Regions from separate parts of the Homo sapiens genome. Here region 2 is linked to region 1. Evidence: fine-mapped expression QTL. A gene starts in region 1. The other region holds a variant in brackets. All regions are shown on one strand. Distances are between the middles of the regions.

Region 1 (16,333 bases):
CAACATGGTGCAAACCTGTCTCTACTAAAAATACAAACATTAGCTGGGAGTGGTGGTGCACGCCTTTAATCCCAGCTACTCGGGAGGCTGAGGCAGGAGAATGGCTTGAACCTGGCAGGCGGAGGTTGCAGTGAGCTGAGATCTCGCTACTGCACTCCAGCCTGGGCAACAAGAGTGAGAATATATCTCCAAAAAAAAAAAAAAAAAAGAAAGAAGGCTGGACGCAGTGGCTCATGCCTGTAATCCCAGCAATTTGGGAGGGCAAGGTGGGCTGATCACCTCAGGTCAGGAGTTTGAGACCAGCCTGACCAACACGGAGCGAACCTCCATCTCAAAAAAACACAAAAAATCAAAACAAAAAAACAAAAAAAACCACACCAAAACCAGAAAACACTTGATTTACTGCACAGTAAATGCCCATACAGCATGCATGGTTTCTTTAAGAGTAAGACTTTGGTTCAAATGTAAGCTCAGCTATTCAATTGCTGAGTGATCTTGGGTAAGTCATTTAATTCCAAGTAAGATGAGAATGAAACCATTTCCACCTATGGAGGGTGTGGTTAAGAGTACAAATGGATAATGTAAAGCACCAAGCCTAAATAGTCGCTAAATTGTAGTTTTTCTTAGAATTACAAAGAAACTGAAACACACTTACGATTGGGCCATCTCCCCTTTCCAAGTATGGCTGGTGGTTAATATGAACAATTGCAGGCAGGAGATACTGTGGAGGGGGGAAAGAATGACAACCTTACGCTTAGAAGTACAATCTTACTTAGATACTTAGTAATTACTGAATTAATGCATAAATAGGAAAGTGAAAAACAGAACTTACCACTGCTATATACAGGAAGCAATACAAATTTGAACATAAAATGCTTCCATATATTTAATAACTAAAATAGTATCTAACTATCTGAATGGCACTTCTACGAAGAACTGAGAACGTATGACAACTAGAATAGCAAAATAAGTTACCACAATATCAAGGATCTTCTCTTGCTCATACATACCGCCAACGTCTTCCCAGAGCCAGTCTGAGCAATGCCCACCATATCCCGGCCACTAAGAGCCAACGGAAATCCCTGGCACTGAATTGGAGTTGGTTCTGTAAAGTGCTGATCCATCAACACATCCATTACATATTCTGTAAGAGAATTTTATTTTGCGTATTTTATTGTGTTTAAAGACACAAACCAAGAGTTTTTAAAAAAACTTTTAAGCTCACTGAAGATAAGATTTACCCAGCTTCATCTCTCCAAAGTGCTTTTTCTTTATCTACTAGATCTCCGACCAACTCACTGTTAGCTTCTAAGGGCCAGGCTAGGTGGCTCACGCCTGTAATCCCATCACTTTGGGAGGCTGAGGCCAGTGGAGGCCAGGAGTTCCAGACCAGCCTGGTCAACATGGTGAACCCTGTCTCTACTAAAAATACAAAAATTAGCCAGAGTGGTGGTGGGCCCTTGTAATTCCAGCTACTCGGGAGGGTGAAGCAGAATCGCATGAACCCAGGAGGCAGAGGAGGTAGTGAGCTGAGATCGCGCCACTGCACTTCAGCCTGGGTGACAACGTTGAGACTCCGTTTCCAAAAACAAACAAACAAAAGCTGCTACAATAGTCTACCTCTCCCAGAAATTTGAAAAACCATTACCCTAAAGCATCTAACAGGACATGGGAACATGGTAGTCATTTATTGTTTAGCAAATTCACATTATATCCAGCTAGAAAGCAATTTCATTCTGCTGTTTTCTAAAAGGCAGAGGGCAAAACCCTAGAAAAAGACAAAAACCTCAAAAAAACAAAACAAAAACAAAACCTCAGTCTAAATACTAGAACAGAACTGATGACCATAAAAACAATCTCTTGTCCTTTCAACAAAACCCCAAGCCTGGCTCAAAGAGTTTAACCTACTACCCTTGTCTCCCATTCAACCCAATTTAACAAATTAAGGTTCTAGATTGAAGAACACTTACGTGGGAAGTTAGCATGATGGAAGGCAAACACGGGTTTAGGACAAACATCTCCCCCCCTCACTGTAATCTCCTTCTTTCGGCGTAGCTCATCAACCTCATACTATTGAAAAAAAATGAAAGAAGTTAGTAAACTAGTTATTCTAAACATTCAGAATTTATGTTCCAAGCTAGCTGAGCAATTATCCAGTCCACAGCTATGTTGGCAAATATTTAATAGTTTACATGGTACTTTCATGTGTATCACTTTAACTCTGCAAGGCTCCTACTTACTTTGTAAGTTAATTAATGATGTAGGTGATTAAGAGTTCCATTTTCTATAGGAGAAAAAAGATAAGTAACTTGCTCAAGGTCAGAATGAGAAGGAAAAAAAAGTGGAACTTGGACCCAAGTACTCTTTCCATTACACTTTCTTCTGAAAGAGTAACCATTTCATGTGTAGAGTCCAAAAAACAATGGTAATGAGGTACAAGAAGAGACAATGTTGGCTGGGCACGGTGGCTCCCACCTGTAATCCCAGCACTTTGGGAGGCTGAGGTGGGTGGATCACTTGAGGTCAGGAGTTTGAGACCAGCCTGGCCAACATGGTGAAACTCCGTCTCTACTGAAAAAAAAAAAATAAATAATAAATGAACCAGGCGTGGTGGCACATGTCTGTAATCCCAGCTACTCGGGAGGCTGAGGTGGGAGAATTGCTTGAACCTGGGAGGCAGAGGTTGCAGTGAGCCAAGATCATGCCACAGCACTCTAGCCTAGGGGACAGAGTGAGACTTCACCTCAAAAAAAAAAAAAGCCAATCTATCTTTTTCACTAACAGATGAAAAAACATGACCTAATATACAATATTTCAATCATGTATAATAAACAGATTAGTAAGCATTATCAACAAGAGAACAAATTAAATGCATATTTAAACTGGTCCCCTTTTATGAGTATTAGGGGTCTTAGATAAGAATGTAAGAAAGGCTGGGCATGGTGGCTCACACCCATAATCCCAGCACTTTGGGAGGCTGAGGCGGGCAGATCACAAGGTCAGGAGACGGAGACCAGTCTGATCAACATGGTGAAACCCTGACTCTTGCACTCCAGCCTGGGTGACAGAGCAAGATTCCGTCTCAAAAATAAAAAGAGGCTGGGCGTGGTGGCTCACGCCTGTAATCCCAGCACTTTGAGAGGCTGAGGCAGGTCGATCACCTGAGGTCCGAGGTCCGGAGTTTGAGACCAGCCTGCCCAACATAGTGAAACTCCATCTCTGCTAAAAATACAAAAAATTAGCCGGGCATGGTGGCGGGTGCCTGTGATCCCAGCTACCTGGGAGGCTGAGGCAGTAGAATCGCTTGAACCCAGGAGGCGGAGGTTGCAGTGAGCCAAGATCACACCATTGCACTCTAGCCTGGGCAACAAGAGCAAAACTCCGTCTCAAAAAAAAAAAAAAAAAAAAAAAAAAAAATCAGCTGGGTGCAGTGGCTCACGCCTGTAATCCTAGCACTTTGAAAAGCTGAGGCAGGTAGTTTGCTTGAGCTAGGGAGTTCAAGACCAGCCTGGGGAATATGGCGAAACCCGGTCTCTACAAAAAGGAAAAAAAAAAAAAAATTAACCAAAAAATTTTTTAAGAAAAATATCACCACACTAGAATAAAATGTAAAACGGCAACAGTAGCGTATGAATAAACTCTAACCAATATATCTACTTGGTTCAATAATCTGTACATTAAAACACACATGTAAACTTACTGGTGTCAGCCTTGCTACTTCCGGATGTTCCACATAAAAATTTTTCTCAAACTTGGGGAGCTCACTCAAATCCCACTTTTTTTTACGCAAACGCTCCCCAGGATTACCAAATTTCTTCGGGGGAAGGCCACCACCACCTCTTGCTCCAAATCTAGGAACAGAATTTTTAGTTAGTTCATCAGTATTTTTAAAGCAACGTATCGTACATGCCATAAGAATATTCAAAAAGGATGGAGTTCTAGGGATACTACCAGCCTACCTCCAAAAAGACCATTTTATTTGCTGTGATTTAAAGGTATGGAGAAATGTGTAAAACCTCCCTTACTACCCAACAATAAATACTGTTTATGAATATAGCTACAATAGGCAAAAAATTAAAAATCCCTTTATTGAGAGAAATACATCCTAGGGATTACAATCACAGATTCTGGATCCAGACATGGTTTGAGTTTTTATTCTGCCACTTACTGTATAATTTGAAGAGAATTATTTAACTTCCACACACCTTAGTTTCCTATGCAAAGTAGAAATAATACCACTTATTTCAGAGGCTGCTGAGAAAATGACCTAATAATGTGTAATGTACTATAAAAGTATCTGGCATAGCCAGCACTCAGTACAAGTTAGCATCATTTCATTCAACAAATAGTTATTAGGTACCAAGTTACTAGGTACCAAGTATGTATCGGCTACTGTTTGAAGTGGTGCTGTGCTGGAGTTACTAAACAAAACAGACACAAGTCTCTATTTTTGTGTAACAGACATGCAGGCAAAGGATGACATTAAGTTAAGTTTCAATTAAAGGGAAGATTGTGGACAAGAAGGAAGATACACTCCAAGCAAGTCCCTCAATCTTAGAATAGCTTCTTGGGCCTGCTCCCCTATTAAACTGTGATAAGCACTCCACCTGTCTGCTTATCTGCAAAGCAAAACTGGGTCTTGGAAAGGACTGGTAGACTGGTCTTCATTTTTAGCTTACGCTAATAAAAGAGCTGAGCCTGCCGGGGGCAGTGGCTCAGTCCTGTAATCCCAGCACTTTGGGAGGCGGAGGCCAGTGGATCACTTGAGGTCAGGAGTTTGAGACCAGCCTGGCCAATATAGTGAAACCCTGTCTCTTACTAAAAACACAAAAGAGTAGCCAGGCGTGGTGGTGCACGCCTGTAATCCCTAGCTACTTGGGAGGCTGAGGCAGGAGAACCGCTGGAACTCGGAAGGCGGAGGTTGCAGTGAGCTGAAATGGCACCATAGCACTCCAGCCTGGTAGACAGAGGGAGGGTCCGTCAAAAAAAAAAAAAAAAAGCTGAACATAGATTTATGACCTTTCCTTCTTCTTTGATCTCTACTTTTACCTTCTATCTCCTTCTTGTTCCCAAATGGTATTATTAATTTACAGAGAAAAAAACACTAACAAGACTTATTTAAGGCTTTAACACTCAACTAATTACTTAAGATCAACTTCTTGCTTTTTATATACCTTTCACAACAGACAAGCTCAAGAGGAATACAAATATGACCACTAGCCAAAGCTAATATTTAAGAAATCAGAAGCTACTTTTCCTAGAAGAATCTTAACACTAAGATGGCCTTAATTTTCCCTATTTCGATCTTGTAAAGTACAGGTCTTTGTTTGGCATACAAACTGTATAGCATTTTCTCAGTTTCTTTACTCCTTGTAAAATATTGTACTGAATTTAGTTCCCTTTTCCCACTCTAACCCACTTGTAACTTCATCTTATATAAAGTTCCACTTTATCATTGATAGGCAAGTAGGTGTATTATTCTACAGGGCCTCAATTTCCTGCAATTCAAAGCCATTAGAACTCTGGCTTAACCAGCCAGACATTCCTCTAAATACATACGTAACAAAAATTGATGGCAGGAGATTTTATTGGGATCACTGGATACCTACACTCAACAGGCAGAACTTGGCTAATTCCATTTATACCACTACTGAGACAGTGAAGACAAATTAAGAATCAGAACAGGAAGAGCACATAGCATAGGGATACCCGTGTCAGCGACATATTTAATATGCCCCTCAGCTTAAGACTCAATACTGAACAGACCAAAAGGCCACCTCAATTGCCGCTCCCGCCACACTTGCAAATGAAGCAGCTAAATAAGGTACTTTTCAAGAGGTAGAAAGTCTTTGGATTATCACTCTTGCAAATTATAAAAGACTTCATTGTTATTGCCACATTGCAATGCTACCCAAACCTTAGTGACTTAGGAAAAAATAAAACTTGAAAGTAAGATTCCTGTTAAGGCTTTAAACTGATGATTATCATTCATGTATTTTTTTTTCCTCTCTCCTTACTTCCCTGGCTATTTATTCAAGACATTCTATTCTACACTAAACATTTAATTTGAAACATGTGGTTCTTGGAAAATATGCCGTCTTCCATGTTTATAATTAATGCTGACATAATTAATGACCTCAAAATTCAAGAAAGCCTTTTACTTTTGAGCATATCCATGCCATCTTTAAATACGCACACTGTACTCTCTGGTATACTATGCTGCTCAAATGTTTTTATCCGGTCAGTAATTAGTTTAATTTGGCTTTACAAAAAAATTCACCTTTGAAGTCATATATTAACATTAAAAACCATACTACTTCAAATGTACAATGCCTATCATTTTTGCATCACACATGTGAAATACATGAACTGACCTCACCTATTCCTTTTTCAAAATAACCACCACTTCAACTGTGTAACACTCAGTTGAAACAACAGCAATTCAAATAATCAAGAACATTTCTTGGGAAAGGGAGAGTTGGGGCACAGATCTTATGAAAGAAGGCTAGTTCGTTTGAAATTTTTAAAAAATGTCATCTGATACTCAAAGTATGGATCAGTAATTCACTTTTTTCCTTTCAAATAACTTATTAAAGCATATATATGGTGAAAGGAAATATTAAACCAAACACCAATGGTAAAGAAATAGAACACTATTAGTAACTTGTAGCCCCTCTATGTGCCTATTTCAAGCTTACAACTTTCACCCTAATAACCACTACCTTGAATTTTGTTAACCACTCCCTTTCCTATCATATTTGCACATATCCTTAATTAAATGTGTCACCCTACCACAACGTGCTTTTTAACTCAACACTTCTGTGACTTATCCACATTAATCCAAGTTCTTTTCTCTTTTTCACGGCTGATTCAATTGTACGAATACCCACAATTTATGGAGACATTTGCGTTGTTTCCAATATCCTGTTAGCACGAATGCTGGTATATAAACTTTTCTGTACAAGGATCCTGGGGTACCTGTGCAAGGATTTCTCTAGGCATTACAGTCTAGGGTATAAAGCTTAGGGAGGAATTGCTGGGTCGTTTTCAACTTTCCTAGATAATCTCAAGTTCTTTTTCTAAGTCAATGAACTGAAATTCACTTCTAAACTTAGCAATACTGTCACACGCGAAGCAAACATTCCACCTCTCATCCTCTAAACAATGAGATAAAATATTTTCCTTCCTAATAAGGTATAAATCAAAATAATTTTGTAAAAAGTGGCAACTGAAGTGCTTGAGACTAGTAAATCCAGCAGTTGTGGATCTGAACCACAAAAGACAAAAACGTTTGGAGAAAATATCGTTAACAGAGCGCCTACTACAGTGAGACTATTACATCCATTATCTCTTAATTCCTGACAACACAGCAAAGTAAAGGCAATTATCACGTTCCTCAGAGGAAACAGGCTCACAAAAGGTAGGATCTTGACCAAGGTCACACACACACATATCAAGTGGCGTCACGTAACTCTTTGGGGAAGCGGGGGGGTCGGGGGAGACGGAGTTTCGCTCTTGCCACGGGCTGGAGTGCAATGGCGCGATCTCGGCTCACTGCAACCTCCTCCCCCCGGGTTCAAGCGATTCTCCTGCCTTGGCCTCCCGAGTAGCTGGGATTACAGGCATGCGCCACCAAGCCAGGCTAATTTTGTTATTTTTAGTAGAAACGGGATTTCTCCATGTTGATCAGGCTGGTCTCGAACTCCTGACCTCCGGTGATCCGCCCGCCTCGGCCTCCCAAATCGCTGGGATTACAGGCCTGAGGCACCACGCCCGGTCCACAATACCAAGAACTTTCTAGCGAGGCAGAATAGTTGACGCTGCAGTCCAATTAGAGAAAAAAGGCTGAAATATTAAGATTAAAACTAAAGTAACGACCCAAAAACCCATCCTTCCCCCAAACACGGTCATTTAGATGGCAAGCAACTCCACTGCTTTACATCCCAATGCATTTCCTCCGACTTAAAATATAACTGAAGAGAATTAAAATCTATTTCTAAAAATGAGAAGTTGGTCTTTTCGTCTCCCGTGCCTTAAACAGTGAACTCTGGGGAGAGAACGTCAAGGGTGCCATTTCGTGTAAGGCTTTCCTGGGCTGAAGTGTTCTCTCAGGAAGATCCGCGTTTTTCAGATGAACGCCGAGGCCTGGAGACATCGAACAGCCCGCCCGAAGCGGCCCGGCTCGAGAGCCGGGAAACCAGGCGAGGCGCCAAAGCCCGGGCCTGGGCTGATGCGGCCAGGCCGCCCCTCCCGATCCCCCGCGGGGCTGGGATGGGGCCGGGCCGCGCCACGACGGCCGTCCGCACGGAGAGGCCCAGCGTCGCCAAGCGGCCGCCCTCCTCGGGTCCCGAGTGACCCCGGGGCCGAGGTCCGCGCACGAAACCGCTGTCTCGCCTCGAGTCGCCTCCCCTCGCCTCCCGGGTCGAGAGCAAGGCTCCCAGGCTCGCAGTCCGCCGGGCCTCCCCAAGAAGCAACTCCCCCACCCCCACGCCAGGCCTCTCCTCTCCTCCCCCACCCTTACCCTCCACGGTCACGATCCCGGTCCCGGTCCCCAAAGCCTCCTCCGCGCATGGTCCCAAAAGGATAGAGATCTGGGAGCGGGGCACGGATGGCCGGGCTCGGGAGGGCCTGCGGCTCCGGTCTGGTGACGACCGATGGCGGCGGCGCCTCCGCTGTTGGGGCGGCGGCAGGCGCAGCGCTCTCTCGCTCCGACGCGCTGTCTCCCGTCGCAGACGCCACCGTCGCCGCCTCTCTCGTCGGAGACGGGAGCAAAACACAGAGAATCGGGGCTACAAAGCCGGTGGGCAGGTTTGGCTACGCTCAAACCGGGCAGTGCCGCGGTTTAGGCGTCTCCTTCCTTCCCAGCGACTGCACAAAATGGCGGCCGCCGCTGAGTCGGCTCCAACTTAACGCTGCGTACGGCGGAGACGATACGTAAACAGCGCCTCGGAATAGCCCGAGGGCTCCGCGGGGAACTACGGGTATTCTTGGAAGCACTTTACGTCAGTTGCGACGATGGGTGTATTTTGCGGTCTGTACAAGAAAAACAAAGTACGGAGCGAGCGTAGAGTTCTCGCGCCACCCGAACTAGAACGTGGGATGAGGTGGGAGGAAGCGCCTCTGGTGCGACGTAACATTCTTTGCGTCGTTAGCCGGCCTGCTGTTGCTAAGATGCGCAGTATGCGTAACGCATTCTGTTTAGAGAATAGAGGATTTTGCCTGATTCCGATCTCGGTACAGACCCCGCGGCCGGCTTGAAGAAGTTGCTTTGCAGAGACAATAACCGTCCTCCATATTGTTATCAAGTTTCAGAGTCCTCTGGCGCCAGAGGCCGGGAGGGTCTTAAATTCCGTGGCTGGCCTTCCTATATGGCGCCGCCAGCCCTCTCGCCCCACCGCCCTGGGCCCGCTGAGAATGGCGGCGGGCCCCGGCGCCATTTCCTTTCCGTTGCCTTTCGCTGCTCTGTCTCCGGCAGCCATGATGGAAGAGCCGTGTCCCTTTCTTTCCGGAGTTTGTGAGGTGGCGATGTCCCTTCCAGGTTAAAGTGCCCTCAGCTACATTTGGTTCACACTGAGGTGCATTTTCTGAACCGTATATTTTTACCGTCCCTGGCCGAGCACAGCTGTTGCTAATACAGAAACAAAATGTGCTTGGAGGCCAGGCATGGTGGCTCACGCTTGTAATACTAACACTTTGGGAGGCCGAGGCGGGAGGATCACCTGAGTCCCGGAGTTCGAGACCAGCCTGGCCAAAATGGCAAAACCCCGTCTCTACGAAAAATACAAAAATTAGCAGGACATGGTGGCGGGTGCCTGTAGTCCCAGCTACTTGGGAGGCTGAGGCAGGAGAATCGCTTGAACCCGGGAGTCGGAGGTCGCAGTGAGCCGAGAACGTGCCACTGCACTCCATCCTGGACGACGGGGCAAGAATCCGTCTCAAAAAAAAAATTGCTTGGAGCCCCAGTGGACTCCGTGGGCCCTTTGCTGCCGTTGAACGGCGCTCCTCAGAAGGCCCGGAGAAGACCCCAGCACTCTCAGGAGAACAAGGTTTCAGAGCGATGGTCTTTAGACACAGAAAGGGCGAAGGCTAAGGACAAGTGTTTAACCAGGCTAGTCCACGTTCTCCGCTCAATTCCTTCCAGACTGGCTTCCCTCTCCTTACCTGCTTCCTGTCGTCTCAAACTGCATTTTGAAGCCCCGCAAGCTTGGCCAAATGGCGTCACACGACTGTTGAGCTGTTAGGGCCCTCGAGACGGGCCCATCTAACGTCTCAATTCAACAGATGGGTAGAAGCGGGGAGATTTGGCCCCTCAGTGTGGGTGCTGAGTGTTTGTTTCCCAAATTTTTGGGAACATAGCATAAGAAAAGGAGCTTCAAAAAGAAAAAAAACATGGACCACTGATTTTTCTGTGGTTATGTGTTCTTTTTCCCCAAGTACGTTCTTAACATTGGCAAGTGAACCTCTTAAAGTGATTGAGACTCGCCTGGGTCATATTCTTTTTCTTTTTTTTGTCTGGAGTGCAGTGGCACAATCTCGGCTCACTGCAACCTCTGCCGCCCGGGTTCAGGCAATTCTCCTGCCTCAGCCTCCCGTGTAGCTGGGATCACAGGTGCTTGCCCTCGCACTTGGCTAATATTTGTAGTTTAGCTGGGGTTTCACCATCTTGGCCAGGCTGGTCTTGAACTCCTGACCTCGTGATCCACCCGTGTCGACCTGCCAAAGTGCTGGGATTACAGGCGTGAGCCACCGCACCGGCCTGGGTCATGTTCTTTTATTTACACTGTTAACCTGCCCCAATCCTCATCATCTCTTGCCTGGATGACTGCGCTCGCCTCTTTTTAATCTGCCTGCTCCTGTCCTTGCTCACTCTGAATTTATTCTTCACACTGCAGTCATAGGGGTCCTTTTATTATGTCACTTTACTTAAAATTTTCCAGAGGTTTCCACTTGAAAGAAAAGACAAAGGCCTTACAGTGGCCTACAAGCCCTTGAGGATGCAGCCCTCTTCTGTCTTTCCTCCTTGTTCTACTCTAGCCACACTCGGCCTCAGGGCCTTTGCACTCGCTCTTTACTCTATGTCAGCAAGGCTAGATACCTCAGTTTAGGTCTGTGCTCACATGTCACTCAATCAGGGAGGCCTCCCCAGAACCCAATGCAACACTGCATAACCTGCATACTCTCCTCCTTCACAAGTACACATGCATTCTCTCTTTTCCATTTTTCTTTGCTTTCATTTGAATTAGTAACTGCTTGACATAAACACTTTTTGTCTCCCTCCTAGAGCGTAAAATCTGTGAGTGCAGGAACTTACTTGTTCACCACCGTGACCCAGTGCCTACCTGGCACAGTGCCTGACCTTTTAGCCATTCGACCACGCCATACCCTTGTCCAGTGAGTCTGTGACTGTCCCTTTGTGTTTCTGGGCCAACTGACATCTCAACGGCTTTTGTTTTTTGAGACAGAGTCTCGCTCTGTCGCCCAGGCTGGAGTGCAGTTGGCTCACTGCAACCTCCGCCTCTTGGTTTCAAGCGATTCTCCTGCCTCAGCTTCCTGAGTAGTTGGGATTACAGGCATACGCCACCACACCTGGCTAATTTTTGCATTTTTAATAGAGACAGGGTTTCACCATGTTGGCCAGGCTGGTCTGAAACTCCTGAATTCAGGTGATCTGCCTGCTTCGGCCTCCCAAAGTGCTGGGATTACAGGCGTGAGCCACCTTGCCTGGCCTTTGTCATCAACTTTTATTTTAATTCTGGGGTACATGTTCAGGATATACAAGTTTGTTACACAAGAAAACGTGTGTCATGGTGGTTTGTTGCACAGATCAACCCCTTGCCTCGGTATTAGGCCCAGCATCCGTTAGCTATTCTTCTCGATGCTCTCCCTCCGCCGACCCCCAACAGGCCCCAGTATGTGTTGTTCCCCCGCTCCATGTGTCCGTGTCCTCTTCTGGGTCTTTGATAGTCTTCACTGATGCTTTCTGCTCACGCTCAGATAATCTGCATTTTCACGTAAGATAAAATAATCATAGAGCAGAGGCAGCAGTCAGCTATGTGTTTGTTTCAGGCGAGCAGAGGGATGACTTTTTAGTTTTGTCCTTTGTCCTGTGCTTGTGATGGTAAACCATCAATGTACATTGTCGGGGTGAAATTCAACGGAACTGTTTTAGTGTAAAGATCTTGGAGGCCCACAAGGAATTTCTTTGTGGGCAAATTGTGAGAGGCCTATGTAGCTTTTTTTGTTTTTTGTTTTTTTTTAGAGACAGAGTCTCACTCTGTCGCCCAGGCTGGAGTGCAATGGCGCGATCTTGGTTCACTGCAACTTCTGCCTCCTGGGTTCAAGCAATTCTCCTGCCTCAGCCTTCTGAGTGGCTGGGATTACAAGCATGCGACATGACGCTAATTTTTATATTTTTTAGTAGAGACTGGCTTTTGCCATTATTAGCCAGGCTGGTTTTGAACTCCTGACCTCAAGTGATCCACCCACCTTGGCCTCCCAAAGTGCTAGGATTACATGGCCACCGCATCTGGCCTTCATTATATATTACGGTGTAATAATAATATAAATAGGCCGGGCCTAATAGAAATAGTCTGGCTAACATGATGAAACCCCGTCTCTCCTAAAAATACAAAAAAATTAGCTGGGCGTGATGGCGCATGCCTGTAGCTACTCAGGAGGCTGAGGCAGGAGAATCGCTTGAATTGGGGAGGTGGAGGTTGTAGTCTTAAAAATGGTATTTACAGGCTGGGCACAGTGGCTGACGCCTGTAATCTCAGCACTTTGCGGGGCTGAGGTGGGCAGATCACTTGAGGTCAGGAACTCGAGATCAGCCTGGCCAACATGGTGAAACCCCGTCTCTACTAAAAATACAAAAAATTAGCCAGGTGTGATGGTGGGCGCCTGTAATCACAGCTACTCGAGAGCCTGAGGCAGGAGAATGGCTTGAACCCAGGAGGCGGAGGTTGCAGTGACCCAAGATGGCACCATTGCACTCCAACCTGAGCGACAGAGCAAGACTCTGTGTCTAAAAAGACAGAAAAAAGAGAAGTTTCCTCTAGAGCGCTGAATGACAAGAGACAATGTGGAGAGAGAAGTCTCATACTTACAAGTATATCCTGCCAAGACCCCAGATATACAAGTGAGGCCATCCCAGACCCTTCAGCCAGCCTACTAGCTGAATGTAGCTGCGTGAGTGAGCTATTTCCTTCCTCCCCGCAAAATCCCTTATCTTTTTCTTCATGTTTTCATCTTAGGATATGAAAAGGAAACTGCTGTAGTTGTTTTTTAACCATGAAGGGAACTTTTGGAGAACAGAACCAGCACACCGAAGGTGGGGAAAGTGGAGAGAAGGAAAGAACCTGGGCCCTTGATGACATTATAGAGTCACTGTATTAGCCAACTGTGGAGCTGGTTGACTTCTGGACTTCTTATTTGAAATGACATGCTTCCTCATTGTTTAATCTACTTTTTTGAGCTTTGTGTTACTTGTAGCTGAAAGCATTCTAACTGATACACTCCTCAACCAGCTCTTCTAATACAAGTACAAAATCTGAAACAAGTCAGGCATGGTGGCATGTGCCTATAGTCCCAGCTACTTGGGAGGCTGAGGCGGGAGGGTCGCTTGAGCCCAGGCATTTGAGGTTGCATTGAGCTATGATTGTGCCACTGCACTCCAGCCTGGGTGACAGACTGAGACCCCATCTGTAAAACAAACAAACAGAAAATCTGAAACACCTTGCATAGTATACAATAGGCATTCAATAAGTTTATCATTAATGAGGAAGTAAAAGAAGATTTTGTTGTAAAGAATGCTAATTGCTTATCCAACAACCATTCTCCCTTTCTCCCTTTTCAATTAAGAGTCAGGAGGCTGGCGCTGTGGCTCACACCTGTAATCCCAGCACTTTGGGAGGCCGAGGCGGGAGGATCCCTTGAGCCCAGGAGTTCAAGATCAGCCTAGGTAACATAGTGAAATCTCAGCTCTACAAATAATAAAAAAATTAGCTGGGTGTGGTGGTGTGTGTGTGTGGTTCCAGATACTTTCCATATACGTGGAAGGCTGAGGTGGGAGCGTCACTTGAGCCCAGGTGCTTGAGGCTGCAGTGAGCTATGCTTGCCCCACTGCACTCCAGCCTGGGTGACAGAGAGAGACCCTGTAACCTCTGGAAAAAAAAATTGAGCGAGAGAGAGAAGACAGGGTCTTGTTCTGTCACCTGGGCTGGAGTGCAGTGACACGATCACAGCTCACTGCCATCTTGAACTCCTAGGCTCAAGCGATCCTCACGCCTCAGCTGCTGAGTACCTAGGTCTACAGGTGCTCATCACCATGCCTGGCTCCTTTTCCTCCTTAATAACAGAACTCCAAATTTTAGCTGGGCATATTGATGTCTGGAACAAAAGTCTGTATTTTCCTACCTCTTTTGTGCATGGGTATGGCCAATGAGATATAAGCACAAGTGTTGTATGGTAGGGCTGCTTTACAGGAGCTGAGTCAGCTAGACAGAGCTTTTCCTTCTTTTTTTTTCTTTTTGCCCTTCTGCCTTTTATCTTTCTTTCTTTCTTTGAGACAGGGTCTCACTCTGTCACCCAGGCTGGAGTGCAGTGGCACAATCTTGGCTCACTGCAACCTCTGCCTCCCGGGTTCAAGAGATTCACCCGCCTCAACCTCCTGAGTAACTGGGAGTACAGGCGCATGCCACCACACCCGGATAATTTTTGTATTTTTAGTAGAGATGAGATTTCACCAGGTTGGCCAGGCTGGTCTCGAACTCCTGTCCTAAAGTGATCCACCTGCCTCAACCTCCCTAAGTGCTGGGATTACAGGTGTGAGCCACTGCACCCAGACTGCCTTTTATCTTTCTTCTCTCAACTTGGTTTCTCTGACTAGAGCTCCAGCTGCCAACTTAGGCAATGAGCTGACCTTGAAGACGGAAGTCAAAAATTAAGATGGTCAAGCAGAAAGATAGAGGCCTGCGGGCCTGATGACAAAGTGGACCCACTGTAGTAGCATCTCTGGACTGCCTAGCTTTAGATTTCTTTTCTATGAGAGAAAAATAAACCTGTATTTTGTTTGGGACACTTATTTTGGGGGTTTTCCCTTATATTCAGTCAAGTAAAATCTAAGCTATCCCTTTAACAACTTCCCTCTCAAAATATTGAAGCCTGGCGTAGGAAAGCACGTGAAGAGTATGAATAATGAGAGCTGTCCCACCCGAGTGTTAAGCAAGCCCCTCCTGGCTTCCCTTTCTCCAGTCCCTGAAGGCGGCACTTGAGAGGCACTCTGTTGTTACCTTGGTTGGAGTTCTAGATGGCAAGTGATAGAATCTAACTGGCTAACTAAGGCAAAGGGAAACTTATTAGAAAGACATTAGGGGCTGAGCGTGGTGACTCATGCCTGTAATCCCAGTGCTTTGGGAGGCCAAGGCGGGTGGATCACCTGAGGTCAGGAGTTCAAGACCAGCCTAGCCAACATGGCAAAACCCCATCTCTATTAAAAATACAAAAATTAGCTGGGTGGGGTTGTGCACACCTGTAATCCCAGCTACTCGGGAGGCTGAGACAGGAGAATCGCTTGAACCCAGGAGGTGGAGGTTGCAGTGAGCCAAGATCACACCACTGCACTCCAGGCTGGGTGACAGAGCTAGAGTCTGTCTCAAAAAAAAAAAAAAGGACATTAGGGTTCATTGAATTAGCAGAAGACTGCAGAAACAGCCTGGGCATGGATGGGAGTCTGAGCCACTCAGCAGTCTAGGAGCCGGAAACCCCAGTCTAGCAGCAGGAACAGCCTGGTCAGGCCTCTGCCACTGCTGCTAGGCCCTGCTGCCCCTGCTCCCCCTGCTGTCACTGCAGGTGTGAGCAGCCTCTAACCCCTGCTGTCATCCTTGTGACTGTCACTTCATATTCAATGTCTCAGGATGCACTACCTGAATTGGGGAGAGGTGACTCTTTGAAAGAAAACAAGTGTTATTATGATGGAGAAATGCAAACTGTGCAACCAGAAAATGTGAAACATTTGCCCTAACAAGCCAGGGTCAGTTGAAGGAGTCCTGACTAGCCACACTTGGTGTCTAAGGCCCAATCCTTCTCCTCACCATGATGAAAGATATCCCTTGTATCTAATCTCTTTCTCTTTCTCTCTCTCTTTCTTTTTTCTTTTCTTTTTTCTGAGACGGAGTTTCACTCTTGTTGCCCAGGCTGGAGTGCAGTGGCACCATCTCGGCTCACTGCAACCTCCGACTATCCGGTTCAAGCGATTTTCTTGCCTCAGCCTCCTGAGTAGCTGGGATTACAGGTGCGCACCACCAAACCCGACTAATTTTTTTGTTGGGGTTTC
Region 2 (16,333 bases), 20 kb before region 1:
CTAGTTCATTTCTCAGCCCAAGTCAGCCTTGGGCATTCCTGGCAGAGACAGCAGACTCAGCCCTTGCCATAGCTGAATGAGGTCTAGGAAGCTCAAAGAGGCTAGTTTCTACATTTATGAAATGAAAAAGTGACCACCTCATTCACTCATTCCAGCATTTGTTTTGTGCCAGGGACTGAGTTAGGAGCTGGGGATTAGGAGGTGGACCTTGCCACGGAGTCCTCTCTTAGAGGGGAGATGGACTTGTACCTAGACATTTACAGAGCATGTGATCACGGGCTAAAATGAGTATGTTCACATGGAGCTATGGCGACAGAATGTGTGCCTCATTGTAGTGAAAAAAAGACTGCTTCGAGGAAATAACTCCAAATAGGAGTACAAATAGGAGTGCTCTAGGCCAGTGTGGTCCTGCTCCGGCAGTATCAGCGTCACTTGGGAAACTTGTTAGAAATACAAACTTTTAAGGCTGGGCTCGGTGGCTCATGCCTATAATCCCAGCACTTTGGGAGGCCGAGGCGGGCGGATCACCTGAGGTGAGGAGTTCGAGACAAGCCTGACCAACATGGTGAAACTAAAAATATAAAAATTAGCCGGGCATGGTGGTGCACGCCTGTAATCCCAGCTACTCAGGAGGCTGAGGCAGGAGAATCACTTGAATCCAGGAGGCGGAGGTTGCAGTGAGACAAGACTGCACCACTGCACTCCAGCCTGGGCGACAGAGCGAGACTCCATCTCAAAAAAAAAAAAAAAAAGGAAGAACAAACTTTCAGGCCCATCCAGACCTATGAAATCAAAAGCTCTTGGGGCAAGGGAAGAGACAGCATCTGTGATTTTTTTTTTTTTTTTTTTTTTTTTTTTTTGAGACAGAGTCTCACTCTTATCCCCCAGGCTGGAGTACAATGGCATGATCTCGGCTCACTGCAACCTCTGCCTCCCGGGTTCAAGCGATTCTCCTGCCTCAGCCTCCCAGGTAGCTGGGATTACAGGCGCCCGCATGCATGCCTGGCTAGTTTTTTTATTTTTAGTAGAAACAGGGTTTCACCATGTTGGCCAGGCTGGTCTCAAACTCTTGACCTCAGGTGATCTGCCCACCTTGGCCTCCCAAGGTGCTGGGATTACAGGTGTGAGCCTCCACACCCAGGCAGCATCTGTGTTTTGATGCACACTCATTTGAGAAGTGCTGGCCTGGAAGGTTGGAGGCCATATCAAAATGAAATCATTATATGCCAGAGGACAGCTACTGTGATTAGGAGAGCTTTTCTGAAGGAGCAATGGTCAGTTAGTTCAAGGGATGTTAGCAGGCCATAAGTAGTCCCAGCTTCTAGGGAGGCTGGAGCAGGAGGATCACTCGACCCCAGGGTTTGAGGCCAGACTGGGCAACATTTAAAAAAAAAAAGGCTAGTCCTTGTGGAAGAATGCTCAGAAGTCACTGATGCATATCCAGGAAATTGTTTTAAAATTGTTTCAAGAGCCCTGGAATGCCTCTGGTAAATCCCCTGAAATAGACCAATCCTGTTTCACCTAATGCTCCACAAATGAAGGGGACGACAAGGGCACCTTTGTTCATGGCAGCACTGTCAGTCCCAGTATAGAAGCATGGAGTTATTTAATGAAAGGGTCACTGATTTCAAATTCTAGGCAACTGGACCCAAGATAAATTGCAAACACATTTAACCTCTTCATGTTACATTATGGCAGAACACTGACCCTTAGGTTTGGTAGGCTAGGAGCGTAGTAAATAGGCCGGGAAATGACTTCATAGATTCGATTCCCATGTCTCTCTCCCCTTTTAGGTGGTTTTTCTCCTCTGTGCCTATGTTACAGTGTACATGATATATGGGAAATTCCGTAAAACTTTTGACAGTGAGAATGACACATTCCGCCTGGAGTTTCTTCTGGTCCCAGTCATTGGCCTTTCCTTCCTTGAAAACTACAGTTTCACTCTGCTGGAGGTAAGGGAATGGACTGAGTACCAGTTCTCAAAGGGAAATATGCTCCCTGCATCCTTCCCTCCAGACCCTGGGCTTGCCTTCTGCTTACAACTGTGACCATTACTCATGTATCTTTCAGTTATAAGTTGAGAAGAAATTGACAAGCTATTTACAATGCTTTAGTTGGAAATGAGCACATCTCAATAGTCATGATGCCCATAAACCAAGCAGGCATCACAGCCCTACTTCTGGCTGTTGAGACGTTCTGTTCAACCGATTAGCAGATCCCTGTATCCCTGTAGCACAGTCCAGGCCCAGAAATTTCAACTCAGTAAGTTTGGACTGTGGCCCATGAATCTGCAGGCAACAAGCATCATGGGAGATTCTGATGCTGGTGTTTATGGACATGACTAATTTTTTATTATTTTTTTGAGATGGAGTCTCACTCTGTTGCCCAGGCTGGAGTGCAGTGGCAGGATCTCAGCTCACTGCAACCTCTGCCTCCTGGGTTCAGGTGATTCTCCTGTCTCAGCTTCCCAAGTAACTGGGATTATAGGCACGAGCCACCACACTCAGCTAATTTTTGTATTTTTAGTTGAGACGGGGTTTCACCATGTTGGCCAGGCTGGTCTCCAACTCCTGACCTCAAGTGATCCACCCACCTCGGCCTCCCAAAGTTCTCGGATTATAGGTGTGAGCCTGGCAACATGACTAGATTTTAAGAAACTGTGGCTTCAATTATGATTTTATACTATGAAACTATCATTTAAGTTATTTTTGGCCGGGCACGGTGGCTCATGAGGTCAGGAGATCGAGACCATCCTGGCTAACACAGTGAAACCCTGTCTCTACTGAAAAATAGAAAAAAAAAAATTAGCCGAGCGTGGTGGCAGGCGCCTGTAGTCTCAGCTACTCGGGAGGCTGAGACAGGAGAATGGAGTGAACCCAGGAGGTGGAGCTTGCAGTGAGCCGAGATCGCACCACTGCACTCCAGCCTGGGAGACAGAGCGAGACTCCATCTCAAAAAAATAAATAAAAAAGTTATTTTTGGCTGGGTGTAGTGGCACATGCCTGTATGTAGTCCCAGCTACTAAGGAAGGTGAGATGGAAAGATCACTTGAGCCCAGGAGTTTGAGACTGCAGCAAGCTATGATCATGCCACTGCACTCCAGCCTGGGTGACAACAGCAAGACCCTATCTTAAAAAAAAAAAAATTAAAAGTAGTTTTCTATATAAATGCTCACGCTACACTGTGAAAAAAGCAGTGTACTGTATAATCTTTCAAAAATTAGAAAAAAAAACCCTTATATTTACCTAGAGATGGTAGGTTAAACTGATTAAAATATTATAATTTTTATTGAGAACTTTTTCCCTCCTTACTGTACCTTCTCCAGCAAGCTATTGTTTTAGTAATTATGTTCTTTTAAGATGGGCCTCTTCTTGGTCTTGCTCAGTCTCTGGTTGCTTTCTCTTTGGCTCAGATCCTCTGGACTTTCTCTATCTATCTGGAATCAGTGGCTATCCTGCCCCAGCTCTTCATGATCAGCAAGACTGGAGAGGCTGAGACCATAACTACTCACTACCTGTTCTTTCTGGGTCTGTACCGGGCACTCTACCTGGCTAACTGGATCAGGCGGTACCAGACTGAGAATTTCTATGACCAAATTGCAGTCGTGTCTGGAGTAGTACAAACCATCTTCTACTGTGACTTCTTCTACTTGTATGTGACCAAAGGTAGGTCCTGGGATGACAGCAATGCTGACACTGGCCTAAGGAGTTACTCATCCATTTAATAAGTATTCCAGCAGATACAGATGTGAACAGTCAAGTCTCTGCCATCCACAATGCTTGTGTTCTAATGCAAGAAGACAAATATTTTCAATAAAGAAACAAATGCCATAAAAACATGCAGGCCAATAGGTTATGTGTACTATGCAAGACAGCTGTGAGATGACATTTGACAGAATACTTGGTTAGTAGTGAAAAACATTCCAGAACTTATTACAAGCCCCAAGGCAACCACCAGCTTGGTGTGATGGACAAAAAGCCTAGTGGGGTCAAAATCTATAAACCTGGAGATGAGTCAACCAAGACCAGTTCACATAGGGCAGGGGTGTCCAACCTTTTGGCTGCCCTGGCCCACACTGAAGAATTGTCGTGGGCCACACATAAAATACACTGATAGCTTATGAGCAAAAACAAACAAAAAGACACTTCATATGTTTTAAGAAAGTTTACAAATTCGTGTTGGGCCACAAAGCCATCCTGAGCCGCGGGTTGGACAAGCTTGACCTAGCGCCTCGTAGGCCAGGGTAAGGGGCTTGCACTACATTCTGATTGCCAAGGGCAGGTATTGGGTCATTAAAAAACCCAATCCACTAGCTGCTATGTAGGGTAGAAAGCAGTCCAAGTACAGTGACTAGCTATGGGGCAGTTGCAGTTGATCAGGAAAAAGGCTCTAGGTAGAAAGACATGTGGACACAAGTTCTAGGACTTGAGAAGGACTGCTGATTTGATTGTATGAGATGTACAATAGACAATTTGAGGCCAATCGCTAAGTTTACAGCTGGGGGGAAGGGTGCCAGTAACCAAGTCGGGGATCAGTAGGTCCATAGTCAACCGGAGATGGACTCCCCCTTTGCTTTAACAATCGAACATATACTGTGAGCCGGCCATTAAGAGATGATACCAAGATTATGCATCAAGTTATAAAGCAGTCCTTTCATCAGATGGTAAATTCTTATTTCATCTCCATTTTCTTCCAGTCCTTAAGGGAAAGAAGTTAAGTCTTCCAATGCCAATCTGAGGACCTTCAGAGACAGTCTACGCCTTAACAAGCACATGAAGGAAACTATTTTGAATGTTCTCTTTGGCAACTTATCCATAATTTGGGATCAAATGTTAAAACCAGAAAAGTGTTTAGTGTGGATTTCAGCAAAACCTGATCATCCCACCCAGAAGACCTTCTCATCAATAGATCGCCCTTAAAGACCCATTGTAAGGTCATAAAAAACCTCGGCCACCTGCACAAAGATGGTGCCTCACTGCAACAAGAAACCTTAAGGTGTCTTACCGACGAAATAAAAAACATAAATGATTGTTCTCCAAGGCCTGAGGGCAAGACTCATGATGAGCAAGTCAACCCCAATCTGGAACAATGTCCCTCCTCTTAGAATGTCCCAACTAAAGACCAGTTAAAATATTAGGGTACGTTCTTGTGAATTTCCACTTTCCAGGTAGATGACCAAATTTAGGTGGTCAAGATATAAAGGTGTCAGCTAGTTTTAAGTGTGAAACTTATTTCACTTTCACACTGCCTTCAGGCCAGAAGCAAACCAAATTTACCAGGTTTGGCTGGAGGAGTTTTGTGACTCATCTTTTACTGGTTTGAATTTTTTCAAACCAGTGGCTGATACCTGCCTTGTACTTAGTACCTTAATACCAATAACCTAATGGTACTTAGGCGAGTACCATTTGCACAATCACTGTTTTACTTATGAGCAGATACAGATATATCCAAACCCTTACCTACTAGGTATCCTGCTAGGGTTTTCAATTCCAATTCTTGTATTAAGTTTTTTCCTTTCAGTTTTAGGTGCGAAAGTAATCAGTCAATCCAATATCCCCCATCTTTGTCTTGAAACAAAAACTGTTTTAAGACGTCTACGTTGAATTATTCAGAGAATTAAGCAATAAAAGCTCACACCTTATTGTCAACAGTGTTTTTATTTATACCTACAAAAAGAAAACAAGATGATGGTATCAAAAGGACAATTTACAAACTAAGAATAGTAACATAGCTTTCAGCATCCTGTGCCTGAACATCACACATCTACAAGTCTTTCAAGTCTTAATGCAACAGGAATGTGTCTGGAGACCAGCAAGAACATCAATAGAGAGCACTGATCCCAAGCAAAAGCCACTAACCTTTTAGATGAGAAGTCCACACAACGAATTGTTAGGGAGGATTGGGGAGAAGCAGCCCATTGCTTAATACATTGGAACCCTTTCCCTAAGTTGAGTTTCAACCATGAATGCAATAACTAGCATAAAACGATTCTTCTGCTCATGTTCTGAAGCCAACAGCAGAACCTGAATTATAAGTGACAGACATGGAGGCAGAAGAGTTAAACTCTGCTAGATTTCAGCTGTGCTCAGGCCATAATAGTTTTTGAGGTTTGGAATTTACTGTTATTTTATGATTACAATGTCCCAGGTGGAAAAAGGGAAGCAAGCAATCCAAATAACCACTTGCTTGCCCAGAGACCTTTCCCTCAAACAGATGCTTTCAAGAGCTGCGAGAGAGTAGGGCATCCCTTGTGGTGGTACCTCTATGTTTAAAGAAAGAAGAAAAAAACCCAGAATTTGGTTGTAGAAAACAATGCCCACAACAGACTGGCCAGTGCTTAGACAAATTTGGGGTTGGGGGGAACACTTTGGTTTGAAAGCACAGAGCAGTTTGCCATGTTTCTTCTGTGCCTACCATTCTCCCTTGGCCTCAACTTCTGTAAGATGGGGGGGGGACAAAAAGAGAAGTAAAGTTAAGAAGAAAGTGGAAAATTAAAAAAAAAGATGTCAAAGTTTTTACATGCATATATTTCAGCTTATGCTGAAGACCTACCTGTATGTTGCACATTGAATCATACTTTCAGAACCCCTCAGAAACCATCCCTCTCTCCCTAAAGAATTTTAAAAGGAAAACAAAACCTCGAGTATAGATCTTACAGATGAGCAAGCATTCAGGCCTTAGCCAAAGAATGCAGTGGAGCCTTCCCCCTTCAACTGCATTGTGAATGAATACCAATTAACAGCATAAAAATTAATAGTCCCATATCAGATCTGGAAGGGGTTTCTGGGGCTGTCTGATGTCCCTATCCTGTTGTAGTGAACACAATAGCAGAAAATTCTTTCTGGGTCCATCTGCTATAAAGTCTTGGTAAAACAGCATTACCATGAAGAGGATGAACTCACCTACCTTCAGATGGAGGAAAAGTGAAAAGGACTTAGGCTTTAGTCCTCCATGACTTTTCTTAAGCACTACCTACCTGTAATAAGCTGAGTGCAAAAGGATGCCGAAGAAAATCTGCACCCAGAAGCTGTTAGAAAGCACTGCAGAGAACAGGGTATGAAGAAAATAAAGAGTTCTTAATAAACCCTTAAGATTCTTTGTTCAAGGTAACTTTGCCAAAAGGGCAGAGTAGGTGGCAAAGAGTTGCTTTTAATCTAGCTCTACACTGCATTTGAAAATAAAATTTGCCCATTTTGAATATATTGTTTATAATTAAATGTGCTTTTTACACTGCAGGTCAATATAAAAACTGGTTAGTAAATTTCCAGCGAGCATTTATGTTCATTTGCTCACAGCAGCTGTCTGGATGGAAAATTAATTTCACAGATGGTCCCCAGTTAAACTGGGAAGAAATATAGGCAGCTTCCACCCAGATGCTGAGATGCTACAGTTTAACCACTACAATAAACACTTGTGGTTTTTAATTTAAAGGATACACAAAACTCAGCAATTCAATTTCTAGCCTGACACTAAAATGGTTATTTTTCAGTAACGGGGGGAGAAGTGGGGAGGCAGAGTGTGAAGGGAAATAAAACCAATTAGTAATTTTTAACTATCAAATGCACTCCAGCAATCAGTCAAAACAGGCCCGAGGAAACCTGTTCCAACTTAAGAAACATTTAAAAGCACAAAAGAAAATGTGCAGGGCAATCCCTCTTTGTTTTCTAACCCAGTAATGAGAAATTTAAAGCACAGATGCCATCTTCCTCTGCAAAACAATTCAGCCCTCCCCCTCCCTCCCTCCCCACCAACTCAGAAAAACAAAACATGGGGCTCCCACAAAAGGGCCTAATACCTTACTCTTTTAGATGAAAAATAGCTCAAATATCTTCAACATGCAAGAAGTTGGGGGAAGAAATTAATCTCTTCCAGTCAGCTATATATATATATATATATTT[T/A]TTTTTTTTTTACAAAATGTTATTCCAGACTGGATCATTTTGGTGGGCAGAAGAAACCTGGCAGTGAATTCTAACTAATCTGCATGAAAAGACAAATCACGATGGTTGGGGGGAAAAATTAAAAAAAAAAAAAGAAAAAAGGAAAAAAAAAGAAAAGGCGAAGAGGAAAAAAAAAGGAAAGACAGTGTTCCTTAAAATGTAATTAAGTCTGCTGGAGTCACTACCACTTGAGTGGTTTCATTTACGTGAAGGAGGAGGAGGGGGAGGAGGAGGAGGGTATTGGTAGGCAGTCTGCCCCATGTAACCTATCATATTGGTAGCTCCCGGAGGCTGTGCAAACTGTTGTGACATCAGTGGCTGTGGCTGCTGCCCAGACCGGCCTATCCCACTAAACTGCTGGCTAGAGCTCTGTGAACTTCTCCCAGTTGAGGTGGTGCTACTAGCTCCATAAGTGCCAGCACCATATTCTTGAGCTGTATAGCTACTGGTGCCATAAGCAGCTGCCCCATAGGTGCCTTGACCATAGGTGTATTGGCCTGCTTGTGCTCCAAAGGCAGAATTTGGACTTCCATAGCCACTGCCATTAGCATAACCAGCTCTATCGGTTTCACTACGATCCCGATAGCTTGCAGAGTCTCTCCGGCCACCATCCTTGACTCCTCGAAGCCTTCGGTCACACTCATCCTGATACATCAGATTGGGATTGTTGGCTGAAGAAGTGGTCCGGTAACGAGAACGACCACCTAATGGGAAGATACAAGAAGATTTTTAATGGCAGATATAGGACCTAAACATAACAATGTAAAAATTCTACTGGGTACAAAAGTATTAAACATGTCTCCTTGATATTTAGTTATGCTGGCCAGCCTCCCAATTAGTACTGTAAAAATATACTCATAATTTGATTCTTTAATGGGGCACATTCAAAAGCACAGTAAAAATTAAAGGACACTAGACCTTTTCACCCTTTTAGGCCCCTTACTTGAGGATGATCAAGAAACACGGTATTACAATATGAAACCTTGAGTCAGGAAGCCCAGATCCTAGGATATTCTGCAACTGTAGATGCAACTGCTATGTCTCAGTTTCTACCCACCACTAAACAGTGTAAAATGACTGACCTCTCCGTATGGAAAACTGGAAACCTAATATACTACTAAGCATTTTTGAAAGTATTAAAAAAGCAACCATGACCGGGGGCACACTGGCTCACTCTCGTAATCCCAGCACTTTGGGAGATCAAGGCAGGAGGGTCACTTGAGGTCAGCAGTTCAAGACCAGCCAACATGGTGAAACCCTGTCTCTACAAAAAATACAAAAATTAGCTGGACATGGTGGCACATACCTGTAGTACCAGCTACTTGGGAGGCTGAAGCAGGAGAATCACTTGAACCCAGGAGGCAGAGGTTGAAGTGAGCCGAGATCGTGCCACTGCACTCCAGTCTGGGCAACAGAGTGAGACTGTCTCTGCCCCCGCCCCGCCAAAGCAACCACATTAAAACTCAGACCAGCCTCAGCTAGGTTTGGTGGCTCACTCCTGTAATCTCAGCACTTTGGGAGGCCAAGACAGGTGGATCACCAGAGGTCAGGAGTTCGAGACCAGCCAGGCCAACATGGTGAAACTCCACAGACCAGCCTCAGCTAGGTTTGGTGGCTCACTCCTGTAATCTCAGCACTTTGGGAGGCCAAGACAGGTGGATCACCAGAGGTCAGGAGTTCGAGACCAGCCAGGCCAACATGGTGAAACTCCACCTCTACTAAAAATACAAAAATTAGCAGGGTGTGCTGGCGGGTGCCTGTAATCCCAGCTACTTGGGAGGCTGAGGCAGGAGAATCACTTGAACCTGGGAGGCAGAGGTTGCAATGAGCTGAGATCGCGCCATTGCACTTCAGCCTGGGCGACAGAGCAAGACTCCGTCTCAAAACAAACAAACAAACAAAACCAAACCTCAGACCAGTCTCTAAGAAAAAAAAATTCACAATTTAGCTTAACTAATAGGACTATCACAACAAACTTCACGTTTTCTTAGTTGAAAAAGGTTATAAAAAGCATTAGGCAGTGTCCTTTGCTATTAAGCAACATACTTACAGCCTTCTTAAAAACAGCAACTAAAAGCAAGTCACAGAAGGCGTAAAGAGATACCTTGGCAGTACCTGGAAAACTCCAGGACTTACCCTTACCCCCGCCTCCGCCGCCTCCTCTGTGGTCCACAAGCTGCATCAGTTTTGGATTGATAGCCTGATTGGCCTCTTCCAGCACTTTGATAAGCTCTCTGGCCTGTTTTAGGTTCCCTGGGGTGAAGAAGGTATAGGCGGTACCCTTGTTGGTGCTACGGGCTGTTCGGCCAATACGGTGCACATAATCCTCTGAGCTGTTTGGATAGTCATAGTTGATCACAAACTTGACATCTTCCACATCTTCCACGTCAATGATGAGTCAGTGTGTAGGTTGATGTGGCAGGGAAAGAGAAGGTAAAGGACATGCCAACAACAGGTGGGAAGCACGAATGCAGATGACAGCAAGAGGAAAGAAGGTGAAGTTAGTAACCACTCTGAACAGAAACAAAAAAAGACTCATCCCAACAGAGTAAAAGAGGATTACTGATTCCTGGGACATGCATAGGAAATAGGATCTTTATTGGCTGTAGAATCCTAAGGGAATCCCATCCAAACATCCAAACTCCTGCCTCTGCTACATTTTACCAATATACTGACAGGAGTTACACCAATATTGGTCTTCAGACGCAAATTCCAGTACTATCCTTTACAAAACCAGAACATAGAACAAAGTGGTAAACCACTGTGAAGTTATGAGGCCAAATCACTTCTACTCTGTTGGGAGAAGCCTGGCAAAATCTACCAACAACATAACAAACTTACCTTTAAACCAGTCACAGAGCAAAGTAAAAAAAGGAGCTTCATATATTTTATTACTACAATTTAAAGGAAACTTAAATGTTTTGATTAACATTTAACTTTTTTTGCTCTTATCTTTTTAAGAAACTGAGTAGAGCCAAAGCTGTTAAGTACACACCTATTTTCCTTTGCAGAAACATCCAGATTATCTATCCCCTTTCAATTACAAGAGCACATTACACTAAAATTTTACTGTACTACCAAGCCCAGCTTCTGCCAAAATGAGGATATTTTTGCTCAACTCAAGGTTATTTCAACTCAGGACTTGTTTCAATTATCAATGATTGTCTACGTGACCTGGGAAATTAAATTAATAGCCAAAGAACGTGGGAAAACCATGAAACCTTGAGACACAAGTTTAGTATTCTCTCTACTGCTGGGAATTGGGCTGAATAACCTCCTAAGGCTTAAAATGTAAATGTTAGTGTAATGCTTTCAGCTGAATGTATATTTTTACCTACTTAAACAAACAATTTTAAGAATATAACAAAGAATCCTACTGTTTTGTGGAAAAAAATCTGCATTTTACAAAGAATATTCAGAAAATATCCTAGATAAAACACAGATTTTTGTGATATAAATAATTAAAAAACATTCTCTGTTTGTTACCAGACCGATGCACACTCCCTCCTCCTTTGGGAAACCGCTGCAGCCGATCCCGTCTCTTTGCCTTTTATTTTTGGCGGCCTCCTTTCGAAAACTCCGCCTTCTGACACGGGACCACTGGAGCGCGGGGAGCATGCATCAAGGGTCCGTGGCAGTGAGAAGTCCCCACACACGCTCGCTCTGTGAACTGGCTTAGATGCTTCTCTGTAGCCCCATTTGGTTGCCAAGCGCCGGAGAACCTGGGTTCGGGTAAAAATTTCAGGTCCTCCAACGCCTCCCCCAAGGATAATTGGGGTGATTGTAGAAAAAAATAATTAATAAAAAAAAATGTAAGTTACATCCAAAGGGTCAGACTGCATCTATTGCCCAGACTGGATTAATTTCAAGGGAGAAAGGGGAGATTAAAAAAAAAAAATTAGCTGTTGTTACAGGGCTTGTGAAGAAGGGGCATTATGTCTGTTTCTTATTACAATAAAGGCTCCTCGGTCTTTACTGACCCCTAAAGTCCTGAATCACACCAGAAAGACGAGAAGGCACTTATCACAGGGGGCAGCTTGAGTCTCCGGCTAGGGTCGTTGACGCAACAAAGGAAAAAAGAATTTACAGGGCCAGGGTGGATGTAAGACAGGGGGTGGGGAATTCTACTCCATGGTATCTTCAGAGCTAGGATAATGCTCCTTATGCAATCCCACTGCATATGACCATGGCAGTAGAACAAGTTCAATTACTACACTGGATGCGTTAAGTGTGCTTTCCTAGCAGAAAGCACCAGGGTGGAGTCAACAGTTCACATGCTAATACTTGGAAGTATTTCTAGAAGGGGGTGCTCAATAGAGGGCAGACATGATGCAAGTTCTTCATACTAGAAAGGTGTCCTGTGTGTGCATGCACAGCTGGATGGGGGCACACAGGAGCAAGCGCAGAATTTGGTTTTCTCCAGTCAAGTCTACCCTGATGTTATCTGTGCACTGCCACAATATTATCTTGCTGCCTTTCTAGAAGATGCTGTAGCAGGGTAAGAAATCCAAAGTTAATGTTTTGGCCAGCTGACTGGGATAAGAACCTTTTGTCTGAAAGGCCCTATGACATGGCCTGAATCGCCAATCACTAATAAGGAGGGACTAAGTCTAGCCAAGAGGCTCATCTAGAGCTGCTTCCGGCCAATGTAGATTTGTCTCGGCCATGTATTGAGTGATCTGCAGCTGATATCAAAGCTTCTGTTAAAAAACAAAACAAAATAAATTCAATACTTTTAGTTTAACAGTGTGTAGTTCAAACAAAAAAAAGGAAAAATAAAAAATATCCCAGTGGAAAGGGAAGTGGTAGCCTAAGGATGACTATTATAAAATTATGGGAATCAAAGAACTTACCTGAAGGGAACATTTAAGAGACCATCGCTTGACAGGAAGTGAAAAAAGGCCCTGGTGACTCAGCTGAAAATTGCACCCCTGTCTATGAGGTAGAAGCCTTCACTTTCCAGGATCTTGTAGGACATTGGTCAGAATTCTGCCATTTTGGTGGGTTTTCTCCCTCTTTTGATTTTTTACAAGGCAGCAAACAAAGGGGCCCAAAACAAGCACTGATGTTGAGTAACAAGAAACAGACTCGGGTACCTTCCCTCTCCCCTCACTTGGATGAGTGGGGGTGGGATGAAGAGTCTAAGTTATTCTAATGGTAGCCAATTAATTTGGTTTAGAAATGCAAGGGGACATGGAGCAAATATTTTTAATTGTCTAGGCAAGATGCACAAAGAAGCTACCAGCACATAGCAAGCCTGTTTAAAAACCAACCATTACTGAAAGCTTTATGTAAACTGCTTTCAGGCCTCCGCCTCCTCTCCCAACAGGCCCAAGTTCTAATGGCACAGATCCAGACATGACCTCAGAGGGCAGAGGGGCAGAGAGAACTTTCCATCATGGCTGCAGGTCACCACCTCTGAAGGAGGGAATGATGAGTGCAATGCATAAAAAGGCTTCATTACTTTTGTATTCCAGTTTGAATACCTGTTCTCTTTATATTATATAGTATAAGGGAATAATATGGTACTTCTCACCTTACTGGGCAAATTAAATACCTGTCAATAATTTAAGGATTTCCTTGTAATACAAATAATCTTTTTTTTTAAAATATAGAAGTTCTGAGTTAGACCTGTTTAGCTCAGAATAGTGGGCTAAACTACCATAAAATTCTCTGTATATCTTAAATGGTAATGGGTCAAAAACTCCAGAAAATCATCAGTTGATAACACACCTACAGATAAGTGCATGGGTAGGAGGGGATAGCCAAGTGCCCATGATAATTTGACCTCAGTAAATTAAACTGGGCAATACACATATTTGCTATTCTGATACTGCATTAGACTTATAAAATTCCATCTAATAAGCATTCATAAAACTGGACCTCTCTGTATATATCTAGCTTAGACAGGGATAGGGAAAAGAATAACTGAAGAAACTAGCTTACAATAGCTAGGTTTCGTCAGGCTTATTCTATCCAGCCAGAAACCACCACCAGAGAGAAGCTGAGCCATTCAGCTGTCTGTCTCCTCTCCCTCTGTTTGAATAGTCATGCCTAGGCCTTGCTGCAGACCAAAGCCTGTTTGTTAGGAGCAGGAAGAGACTTTGAAAATAAAAGGGGGGTGGGGGAAACCAAAGTTAAAAAAAATTGTGGGGGGGGCAGGGAATGGGGAGAATCACGCTTTGTATTTTTTTCTTTCAAATATTTATCTAACCACATGTATATACAACTTTCTAAACTTGAAGTCTGAATTTGAAATGACGAATCTTTAAACCAAAAGATACATATACCATTGACAGAGACACCTATCTATACAAACCTAGCCCACGGGAGGCTACATCTGTAGCAATAAGGATGGGTGCCTTTCCAGAACGGAACTCTGTAAAAACAAACAATAATCATCATCAAATAAGCATTCCTTGCTATCTGATCTGTTTACATAACCATGTTAAAATTTCAAATAATGGTGCCAGAAAATCCCAAGCTCTTGTAATGACTGACAGTGATTCTTTTGAAAATCTTTATTACACTCATATTCAGCAGCACAATAGTTACCTCTACTAATAATGAAATACCGTTAAGAGAGTGTGGCAATTTGTTACATAATTAATATGAGCTAGATTTTTTTCCCCTTAAAGTTATTTCCCAAATGAGACACAACCAAAAGTTGGGGGTCAGTAGGAAACAAGTTCAAAAGATGTAGAATGAAAAGAACTGAATTTCCCCCCAAAAGGTATGCATATTATTTATTTTTCTTTCTTTTTTTTGAGATGGAGTTTCGCTCTTATTGCCGAGGCTGGAGTGCAGTGGCGCAATCTCAGCTCACCGCAACCTCCACCTCCCGGGTTCAAGCGATTCTCCTGCCTCAGTCTCCCAAATAGCTGGGATTACAGGCATATGCCACCATGCCCGGCTAATTTTGTATTTTTAGTAGAGACGGGGTTTCTCCATGTTGGTCAGGCTGGTCTCGAACTCCCAACCTCAGGTGATCCGCCCACCTCAGCCTCCCAAAGTGCTGGGATTACAGGCGTGAGCCACTGTGTCCGGCCACATTTTATTTCTTAAACAAAATATGGCCTCTTCCATTTCTCAATGGCTTCCCTTAAGAGTAGTCCTGAAAAAAAGGACTGAAAGGAAATATGCTAAAATATGACTCATTAAGAAACATTTTTCTTTAAATATTTCAGTAACAGTTTAATTCTCCCCAAACGGTAGTTATATTTTTATAATCAGAAGGAAAAAATTGAAGACTTTATTAATAAAGGGAGGGTGGTGAAAGTTGTGAAAAAGTTTAAAGAGCCAGCATCGTGGCCCTTAAAGAACCATGAGCACACGCTAAAAGTACCCTCAGTAATTCAATCAACTATACAACAGGGGTAAGACAAACTGGCCTTTGGGCCAAATCTGGCACAACGCCTATTTTTGCAAATAAATATTGTCTGAACATAGCCACGTTTATCTCTTTGAGACAGGGTCCCACCCTGTCACCCAGGCTGGAGTGGCACGATCTTGGCTCACTCCAACCTGTCTCCTAGACTCAAGCAATCCTCCCACCTCAATCTCCGGAGTCGCTGGGGTTACAGGCGTGCACCACCAAGCTTGGCTAAGTTTTGTTTTGTTTTGTTTTTCTTTTAGAGACAGGATTTCACTATGTTGCCCAGACCGGTCTTGAACTCCTGGGCCTAGGTGATCCACGCGCCTCAGCCTCCCAAAGTGTTAGGATTATAGGCATGAGCCACCAACGGTGCCCAGTCCAGGCCACTTCTTTACATATTATCTACAGCCTACAGCTTTTGTCCTAAAACAGCAGTGCTGAGTGGCTATAACAGAGACCACCATTTGGTTTACAAAGCCAAGCATACTTACTATGTGGCCCTTTACAGAAAGTTTGCCTATCCCTGAAATAGAGCATGAACATTCACTTATGGGCAGGGGGTGGGGAATCAACAGAAAATGCTTAGTTTTAAACTTACCATTAAGTACCCAATCTCTTTCTGGTTGACTCTTGTCTCCATGGATACACATAGCTGGCCAACTATCAGAAGAAAAGTGACCAATATTTTAAAAATCTTTTAAAGTGGAGAAAATCGAACTTTAAAGCCAAATGCTATCATGCAATTTTTGTAAGGTTTGTCAGGCTTCATGAATAGATGACTGTGCTCATTAAAAGAGCAAACTGCATGGATAGGCATTATTGAAATATTACACAACATTTGGAATACCAATTTAGAAATTTCCAGTTAACTATAAAACCAGAGGTTAATTGCCTTGGTGCTATACTCACCCATCTCTGCGCATCCTTCGAGTCAGATCATCACAGCGTCTCTTTGTCTCCACAAATATTATTGTTTTGTTTTCCTTTTCAGCCATTATTTCTTCCATTAGTTGGATCAACC

Direction of the effects. Positions count from the first base shown, and alleles are read on the strand shown. Sizes are in standard deviations (SD) of each study's normalised expression.
For the expression in monocytes after interferon gamma of the gene that starts at base 8,882 in region 1, A is the low allele of the variant in region 2 and T is the other (moderate effect, 0.74 SD a copy in Fairfax 2014).

Evidence for each region. PIP is the estimated chance that this variant, and not a neighbour inherited with it, causes the effect.
Region 2: its variant is fine-mapped to the expression of DDX17 in monocytes after interferon gamma (Fairfax 2014, PIP 0.95).

The regions. Positions count from the first base shown.
Region 1 is chr22:38,497,430-38,513,762 of GRCh38, forward strand. DDX17 (DEAD-box helicase 17) reads right to left here and starts at 8,882. Exons shown (of 13, transcript NM_006386.5): 1 at 8,522-8,882; 2 at 3,701-3,851; 3 at 1,971-2,070; 4 at 1,011-1,144; 5 at 656-721. The coding sequence starts at 8,808. It also overlaps a transcript of DMC1 not described here. RefSeq lists enhancers at 7,947-8,838, 8,718-8,907, 8,839-9,730, 9,308-9,717, 15,314-16,122 and silencers at 8,158-8,327, 8,358-8,627.
Region 2 is chr22:38,477,800-38,494,132 of GRCh38, forward strand. KDELR3 (KDEL endoplasmic reticulum protein retention receptor 3) reads left to right here. Exons shown (of 5, transcript NM_006855.4): 3 at 1,794-1,952; 4 at 3,413-3,665; 5 at 4,697-5,648. The coding sequence ends at 4,737. It overlaps DDX17 (DEAD-box helicase 17), which reads right to left. Exons shown (of 13, transcript NM_006386.5): 9 at 16,222-16,332; 10 at 15,911-15,972; 11 at 14,257-14,316; 12 at 10,080-10,316; 13 at 5,639-8,641. The coding sequence ends at 8,136. Among named protein-coding and RNA genes, the nearest start is that of KDELR3, 18 kb to the left of the region's middle. The variant T/A (reference allele first, on the strand shown) is at 7,899.